Linked DNA regions of Homo sapiens: region 1 is linked to region 2. Evidence: fine-mapped expression QTL. A gene starts in region 2. The other region holds a variant in brackets. All regions are shown on one strand. Distances are from middle to middle. Region 1 holds the start of LOC124903062 (a long non-coding RNA gene). Region 2 holds the start of P2RX2 (purinergic receptor P2X 2).

What was found. PIP is the estimated chance that this variant, and not a neighbour inherited with it, causes the effect.
Region 1: its variant is the best candidate, but not a certain one, in a credible set for the expression of P2RX2 in unexposed skin (GTEx, PIP 0.57).

What each region holds. Positions count from the first base shown.
Region 1 is chr12:132,590,414-132,594,793 of GRCh38, reverse strand. LOC124903062 (a long non-coding RNA gene) reads left to right here and starts at 330. Exons shown (of 2, transcript XR_007063549.1): 1 at 330-1,453; 2 at 1,621-1,763. RefSeq lists an enhancer at 617-666. The variant A/G (reference allele first, on the strand shown) is at 2,641.
Region 2 is chr12:132,616,394-132,620,773 of GRCh38, reverse strand. It overlaps P2RX2 (purinergic receptor P2X 2), which reads right to left and starts at 1,998. Exons shown (of 11, transcript NM_170682.4): 1 at 1,785-1,998; 2 at 1,200-1,335; 3 at 1,024-1,095; 4 at 855-930; 5 at 678-774; 6 at 427-507; 7 at 191-329. The coding sequence starts at 1,957.

The DNA of each region.
Region 1 (4,380 bases), 26 kb after region 2:
TACAGGCGTGAGCCACCGTGTCCAGCTGCAATTTTTTAAAATTTTAATATATATTTGTTTTTATTTTATTTTATTTGAGACAAGGTCTCGCTCTGTTGCCCAGGCTGGAGTGCAGTGGCACGATCTCGGCTCACTGCAACCTCTGTTTCCCAGGTTCAAGTGATTCTCCTGCCTCAGCCTCCCAAGTAGCTGGGATTACAGGCGCCCACCACCATGCCCAGCTACTTTTTGTATTTTTCGTAGAGATAGGGTTTCGCCATGTTGGCCAGGCTGGACTCGAACTCCTGACCTCAAGTCATCTGCCCGCCTCAGCTTCCCAAAGTGTTGGGATTACAGGCGTGAGCCACCGTGCTCGGCCCCTGAAGTTACTTTGATATTGACATAGTCACTGCAGGTTTTAAAAATTTTTGTTTGCATGGCATAGCTTTTCCTGTCCTTTTGACTTATTGGTGTCCATATCTAAAGTGCATTTCTCATGAGCAGTTTAGCGTTGGGTTTTGCTGTCCTACCCTCCCTGGCAATCTCTGCTCTTAACTGGGGCTGTCTGACCACTTGCTCCGGTGTGGCTGTGGCTGCGTGGAGGCCACGCCTGCTGTCCTGCTCTGTTCCCATTGGTCTCAGTGTGCAGTTGCCACGCCCACCTTCCTGTTCTCTGCTCCCTTTGGTCTCACTATGCAGAGGCCACGCCTGCCATCCTGTTCTCTGCTCCCATTGGTCTCACTGTGTAGAGGCCACGCCCGCCGTCCTGCTCTCTGCTCCCGCTGCTGTCACCGGCTCTCCCTTTCCCATTTCCTCTTCCTTCCTTGGATTCTGTTTGATGATCCTGTTTGATTGCAGTTGTTGGCTTATGAGCCAGAATTTTGTTTTGTTGTTTTAGTGGTTGCTTCAGGGTTCACAGTAAACATCTTTAACTCACACGGTGAACCTTTTTGAGTGGGGCTGCACCTCCACCAGGGCAGATGCTCCGCAGCGCACGTCACCCACCCTCTCCCCGCCGGGGCCATCGCCGCAGGGCGGTTCCCTGGTGACTGCACTCCGCGCGGGTGCCATTGGTATGGTCTGGGTTGAACACTCTGATATTTCACCTGAAAGGCAGGTGCCCCAGCCCCGGGAGGCCCTCCTCAAGCCCTTGCCTGCTCTGGGACCCCTGGCTGCGGGCTGACCCTGAAGGGGCATCTTGAGGCCAGGACTGGACCTGGCAAGGCCCCGGCCGAGGTCACGGCTCGAGTGTGACTGTGAACTTGGACATCTGACCCCAAAGCTCACTCCTGGGACAAACCCAAGAGAATCGGAAACAGACGTCACACAAATTGTTGTCCACAGATGTTCAAAGCAGACTCTTCATAGCTGCTCAGGTGTCCACAAACGATCGACAGATAAGCCCAGCGTGGCCCTCCACACCAGGGAACAGGATTCCACCAGGAAAAGAATGAGGCCCGCACGGCTGCAGGGGGTGAGCCTGGAGAATGGCGATGGGGGACAGAAGCCAGACACACAGCCCCGACTGTGAGCTTCCGTTTCTATGCAGGCCCAGAACAGGCGGGTCCGGAGGCGGGAGGAGGCCCGGGTTGCCAGGGCGGCGGTGGGAGAGATGCTCACGGGGAGGGAGTTCTCTTCCAGGTGGAGAGCGTTTGGAACCAGACGGGAGTGAGGGTCACTCAACATCGCAAATGGACTAAATGCTACCGAATTGTACGCTTTAAAACGGTTCATTTTATGTGATGTGAATTTCAGCTCAATAAAGAAAAAAGATTTAAAATGTGTCTTGAGGAGCCACGAGCATCTGTACCAGGGAGGTGGAATTGTGTCAGGAAGGCTGAGGCCTGGAGATGAGCAAGGGTTGGGGCAAATCCTGGAGATAAATGTGTTATTTCTGCAACTTAAATAGGGGCAGGCTTGTGCTATGAACTCTAAATACTCGCTGCAGCTGCAGGACGGCTGCTGTGCTCCAGAAATCTCAGCCGCATCCAAGACAGGAAGGGGCCGGGAGGGCTGCGTGGTCGGCTGAGCGACGGCACGGAGACGCATCCCCGCCGTGGAACCTGGGAGTGCTGCCACATGTGGTAACAGGAGCTTCGCAGGTGTAAGTAAGTTAAGGGTCTTGAGATGGAGAGGCGAGTCTGCACTTCCAGGAGGCCCTAAGTGCAGTCAGGCGCCGGTAGGATGCAGGCAGTGGGGGCAGGAAGCTCGAATCGGGGACCTGAGGGCGCAGCCAGGAGAGGCGAGAAGAGGCCGCACAGCTTGTCTGCCCGCCCCCTTCCTCCCGCTCGCCTTCCCTTCCTGGACAATTTCGTCCTGAGACCTTTGCATGAGGCTGAGCATCCTCACGGGCCGTGGGGAGCCAGGGGTTGGGAGTACAGCATGGACCCTGCGCCGGCTTGGGGTGGCCGGGGCCGAGCAGAGGGCAGGCGCTGTGCCGGGTGGGCGGCCCCGGGTGGGTGCTGGGCTCAGGTGAGGAGTAGGGGCATCTGCAAGGGGAGCAGGCGGGCTCCCCGCCGTGGGGAAGCCAGTGGATGCCAGGAGCACGGGATGAGCCCTGTGCGGTCGGACTGGAATTCCAGGGTTTTCTTTTTTTTCTTTTTTTGAGATGGAGTCTCGCTCTGTCGCCCAGGCTGGAGTGCAGTGGCGCGATCTCGGCTC[A/G]CTGCAAGTTCCACCTCCCGTGTTCAAGCCATTCTCCTGCCTCGGCCTCCCCAGTAGCTGGGACCACAGGCGCCCGCCACCACACCCGGATAATTTTTTTTTTTTTTTGTATTTTTAGTGGAGACGGGATTTCACCATGTTGGCCAGGATGGTCTTGATCTCCTGACCTCGTGATCTGCCCGTCTCGGCCTCCCAAAGTGCTGGGATTACAGGCGTGAGCTGCCGCGCCTGGCCTGGAATTCCAGGGTTTTCAACACACCTTGGTGGTTTTGGAAGTAAATAAATATAGATGTGAAGAAACACAGGTAACTTTCCCAAGAGCACGAGGCACACACGACACCCAGGCTGAGCCTCCAGGGCTCCGGGAGATGGGGCCGGGCAGGGAGCGCCTGGTGCGTGGGGGCCCCGGAGGTCAGGGGCTGTGAGTGGGGACGGGCACGCGCAGGAAGCCACTGGCCTCGCCCCTGGACATCACGCTCAGGGGAAGGCCCAGCTGCGCTGATGTAATTGATGCGTGCAGGGAACGTTTGAGGGGAAAGAGGTTTCATATGGGTTCAGGCATCTTCCCCTCAATGCTCAATTACAAAACCGGGGGCAGGTGGCTGAGTGCAGGTCGGGACCAACGCCTGATGGGACAAGCTGGCATCGGGCGCTGCCGGCGGCTTCGAGGATCCCCAGCAATTCTACGTATTTCCACTCCAATGCCCACGCTCCGGAGAAAGCCAGTGAGGGCGTCCCCGAATTGCGGTCCAGAACCTTCTGCGCACCAAGGTTGTGAGAGTCCCTGAGAGGCGGGGCGGGCTCTCCCAGGAGGAAGCAGCGTGAATGCTGAGGCCCTGCACCAGGCAGGGAGCTGTGCTGCTCGTTGATGCTGGGGGGCTGCGGTGTGGACTGGGACGGACAGCCTGCCTGCCGGAACGGACAGAAGGTGCCGAGAGCGAAGGTGGAGGGTTACCAGCTCGCTCTGAGGTCAGGAAAGAGTTATGTGAACGGCGCTTGCAACTTTTCAAGCTGAAATTTTTAAAATAACAAATACAAGTTACAGATAAGCACCGTTTCTGAACCCACAGTTCCACGTTGGAGAATCAAATCCCACAAAAAATGTTTGTCCCAGAAGGTGCAGTTTGATAGACAAGACTTAATCCACGAACCGGACACAGCCACAGGGGCTGGCATCATGGAGCACCCGCGGTTCTTCCTGGAGCATGAGGAGTCCAGCTCCCTCGGACGGTTCCACAGCACAGGTAGTGTCCCCAGAGGGAGTGGCTGCTTTCCTGATCACTCATGGATTCTTTTGCTTGTGACAAGGAACATGCATCAGTCCTATAATTTCTTTTTCTAAAATCTAGGCTGGCGCAGTGGCTCACGCCTGTACTCCCAGGACTTTGGGAGGCCAGGGTGGGTGGATCACCTGAGGTCAGAAGTTTGAGACCAGCCTGGCCAACATGGCAAAACCCTGTCTCTATTAAAAAATACAAAATTAGGCCGGGTGTGGTGGCTCACGCCTGTAATCCCAGCACTTTGAGAGGCCGAGGCTGGCGGATCATGAGGTTAGGAGGTGGAGACCATCCTGGCCAACATGGTGAAACCCCGTCTCTAATAAAATACAAAAAATTAGCCAGGCGTGGTGGTGGGCACCTGTAATCTCAGCTACTGCCTGTAATCTCAGCTACTTGGGAGGCTGAGGCAGGAGAATCGCTTGAATGTGGGAGGCGGAGGTTGCAGTGAGCCGAGATTGCG
Region 2 (4,380 bases):
CAGCCCCATGGCCAGTGTCAATAATTCAGCAAGCGCCACACCGGATGGGTTGCGCTGATCGCATTTCTTTTCCTCTGCCTGAGCGGGGCCAGCTGGTCAGGAGGGAGGAGGGACTGGTCCCCTGTACCCCAGGCCCTCTCTGTGCAGGTGGGAGCCCACCCTGGCCCCACCCTGCCTGCGCTTGCCCTGCCTTGTGTGCGAGCTCTGTGAAGCTCTCCCCAGCCTTCTCCACGATAAAGCCCAGCTTGAAGATGGGGCAGTAGAGGTCGGAGGCCTCGTGGAACGTGCAGCGCTTCAGGTACCCGTCTGTGCGGTCGGCGATGTTGCCCCTGAGGAGGCGGCAGGAGGCGAGACCTGCACCCCAAATACCCCATTCCCAGAAGGCAGCCCTCAGGCTGGGCCGTCACCACACCCCGCGGCTCTTACTTGGAGAAGTGGAATTTGGGGTAGTGGATGCTGTTCTTGATGAGGATGGTGAAATTTGGGGCCATCGTACCCAGAAATTGGCTGAGGAGGCACAGAAGGGTTGTTTAGTCCCCTCTTCCCGCAAAGCCCCCGCCTGGCATTGGCCCCCACCCCTCCCCAGATCTTGTCACTCCTGCCCCGCCCGTTTGGCCTCTGGTCAGGGGAAAAGGATCAGAGGGGAGGCTGGGCCCCAGGCCGGGGCGCAGGTGCACCTGACAGAGGCCCCATCTTCCACCGGGCACCAGCCGAACACCTCGCAGGTCTTGGAGGGCCCCTGGTAATAGGGCACACAGCGCCCAGTCCTCAGGCCTGGGAGGCAGAGGTCACTGAGGCATTAGCGGGGACGCAGCCCTGCCCCACCCGCCCAGCCCCAGCTGGCGCACACCGACCGTTTCCCAGCATGTCCAGCTCCCCAGCCACGCAGTCGGCGTCGGAGAGGCAGGTGGCGTTGTGGACCCTTATGCTCTAGGGTGGAGGCGGCCCAGTCAGGGACCCCGCAAGGGACAGCTGGCCCGCCTAGCTGAGGCGGGGTCCCCCAGCGCCGCGGGATCCCCTCACCTCGGGGCAGGTTCCCTGGGTCTGGGAGTGGGTGGCCTCGACCCTGGTGATGATGCTGAACACGCTGCCCCCCTGGGCTCAGAAAGAGGGGGCGGTCGGCCAGGCGGCAGCCGCTGCCCCCTCCGCCCACTAGGGTAGGGTGCACGGCGGGGCGGGGGGCAGGGGGCGGCCCGCACCTCGGGGGGCTTCACGTACTCCTCCACGTCCCACACTTTGTGCTCGGACGTGGTGATCCCCTTGACCTTGGTGATGATGGAGCTCTCGGGGCCCGTCTCGCTCTCCTGGTAGCTTTTCTGCACGATGAATACGTACCTGCGGGCAGGGGCGGCGCCGGCTCCGGAGGCGACCCTGGGAAGGCTGAGTCCCGCCCGCAGGCACGGCAGGGGCCCTCCCGCGACCCGGGTCCGCTCTGCGGGGCTCTTGGGGCCTGCCCCGCGCCCTCGGTCCCAGCCCCAGCCCCTGCCCCGCGCCCCCGGTCCCAGCCCCAGCCCCTGCCCCGCGCCCCTGGTCCCAGCCCCAGCCCCGCGCCTCCAGCCCAGCACCCCGAGTCCCAGCCCCTGCCCCACGCCCCCAGTCCCAGCCCCTGCCCCGCGCCCCCAATCCCAGCCCCTGCCCCGCGCCCCCGGTCCCAGCCCCAGCCCCTGCCCCGCGCCCCCGGTCCCAGCCCCAGCCCCAGCCCCGCGCCTCCAGCCCAGCGCCCCCAATCCCAGCCCCTCCCCTGCGCCCCGCACCCCGCGCCCCGCACCCCGCGCCCCGCGCACCACACGAAGTAGAGCAGGATGAGCAGCTGCACGGCGCGGTACAGGACCCCCAGGCGCCGGTTCCTCACCACGATCACCTTGGGCGTCTCGTAGTCCCAGAGGGCGGACCAGCAGCCCCGGGCCAGGCGCCGGGCGGTCGCCCCGGCGGGGTACTTGGGCTGGGCGGCGGCCATGGCGCGGGCGGCCCCCACCTCCAGGAAGGCGCTGCAGGGCTGAGGGTCGGCCCCGCTGCGCACCGAGAGCGGGGGGCGCGCGGCGGGCGGGTAGCTCGCGGCTCCGCCTCCGGGGTGCGGCCTCGAGCCCGCCCCGCCTCGCCCCGGCCCCGCCCCGCCCCGCAGGTGTCCCGGGAGTCCCGGGTGTCCCAGGTGGGGCTGGGAGCGGGGCCTCGCGGGGACAGAGCCGGGGGCGCGGCAGCCCAGCCCCAGCTCTTGGTCCAGGTGGGGGCCGAGCGCGGAACCGGCGGTCTCGAAGTTGGAGGGTCGGGATTCCCCGGGTGGGAACTTTTTCCGAGCTCGAGGAGAAAGACATGGGAAGTCCCGCCGGCCTCCGCGGCGCCCCCCACCCCGTCCAGGCCGGTTCCTGCCGCGGCTGCCGGGGCTTCGAGCGCAACCTGCACTCCCGCCTTTGCCAGCAGACGCCTCGCTTCCAGCTCCTGCCTCCGCCGCAGCTCCAGCCCTCGAGCTGGAGAGGGATCCACGGCCGATCCGTTTTCTTCTTTGCAAGCCAGAGTTTTCTTTCTTTCTTTCTTTCTTTTTTTTTTTTTTTGGTAACTTTTCGAACCTCCACCCCACCCACATTATTTTGAAGCAAATCCCAAGCATCACAGTTTTTCACAAAATAATTTTAAAATAGTTTATTATGATAAAATCAGCATAGCATGTAATTAACTATTTTAAAGTAAACAATTCAGTGACATTCACAACATTGTGCAACCACCACCGCCTCTGTTTCGTCCCCAAACACTTTCCCCACCCCAAAATAAAACTCCCATCCATTAAGCAGTCACGACCCGTTCCACACTCCTCCCATGCCCTGGCAACCACTGGTCGCTTTTCTGTCTCAGTGAATGGACTTGCCTGTTCTGGATATTTCATATCAAGGAAATGCAATATTTGTTTCTGGGTTAATGCCTTTTCTGTCTGGCTTCATTCACTGAGCATGTTTTCAAGGTTCATCCACATTGTAGCATGTGTCAGGGCATCACCCCTTCTTATGGCCAGGAGAAATGTCTAGGCTATCCAAAGAAGGAATTTAGATTGCTTTCAAACTAACTCTGTGAATAGTGCTGTTATAAACACTGGTGCATAAGTATTTGTTTGAACTGTTAAATTAACTCAATTAACAGGCTGCCTCTGTGCCTTGAGTTTCTAGGTAACAACAAACTGCAACCTAATGTACCACAGAAACAAGCTAAAAGCTTAACCTATGAGTATATTTTGGAACAAATAGCTGGGTCTCAGCCAGTCACAGGCTGCTAACTGATCTGATCATGCCATATAAGGCAAACATTTCAAGCAGTAACAAAATCAAGCTAATTGTGATTTTTTTTTTTTTGTATCTCACTTCTGTGTTCTATCTATAAAAACTTCCTGCCCACATTACAGAGTGGAGCTCTCGAACCTCCCCCATTGGTTCTGAGTGCTGCCCAATTCATGAGTTGTGTTTTGCTCAATTAAACTCTGTTGGCTGGGCACAGTGGCTCATACCTGTAATCCCAGCACTTTGGGAGGCCAACATGGGTGGATCACTTGAGATCAGGGGTTCGAGACCAGCCTGGCCAACATGGCGAAACCTCGTCTCCACTAAAAACACAAAAGTTAGCCAGGTGTTGTGGCATCTGTAATCTCAGCTACTCGGGAGGCTGAGGCAGGAGAATCACTGGAATCTGGGAGGTGGAGGTTGCAGTGAACTGAGATTGCACCACTGCACTCCAGCCTGCATGACAGAGGGAGACTCTGTCACACACACACACACACACACACACACACACACACACACACACAAACTCTTAAATTTAATTTGTCCAAAGTTTTTGTTTTAACAGTTTGGTGTCAGAAGTGGGATCTGAAGTAGACCTCCAGCCACCCCCTAGGAGCACTGAATGCTCAGTAGGGCCTGTGTGCCTGCTGATCTCTCAAAGCATCTAGAGTCATAGGTGAGTTCTCTCTGCTGGATTTGTGCTCTATGACCATGTGTTTTGAGCCCTCTACTTTGAGCAATTCTTTTTTTTTTTGAGATGGAGTCTCACTCTGTTGCCCAGGCTGGAGTGCGGTGGCGTGATCTCAGCTCACTGCAACCTCCGCCTCCCAGATTCAAGCAATTATCCTGTCTCAGCCTCCCAAGTAGCTGGGATTACAGGCACATGCCACCGCGCCCGGCTAATTTTTTTGTATTTTAGTGGAGACGGGGTTTCACTGTGTTGCCTGGGCTGGTCTCAAACTCCTGAGCTCAGGCAATCCACCTGCCTTGGCCTCCCAAAGTGCTGGGATTACAGGCATGAGCCACGGCGCCCGGCCTTGAGCAATTCTTAGACCGGAATGGGTCCAGGATTGAATTGGATCCAAAACTTAACTCTATTGTATCCAGTTAGAGGCCT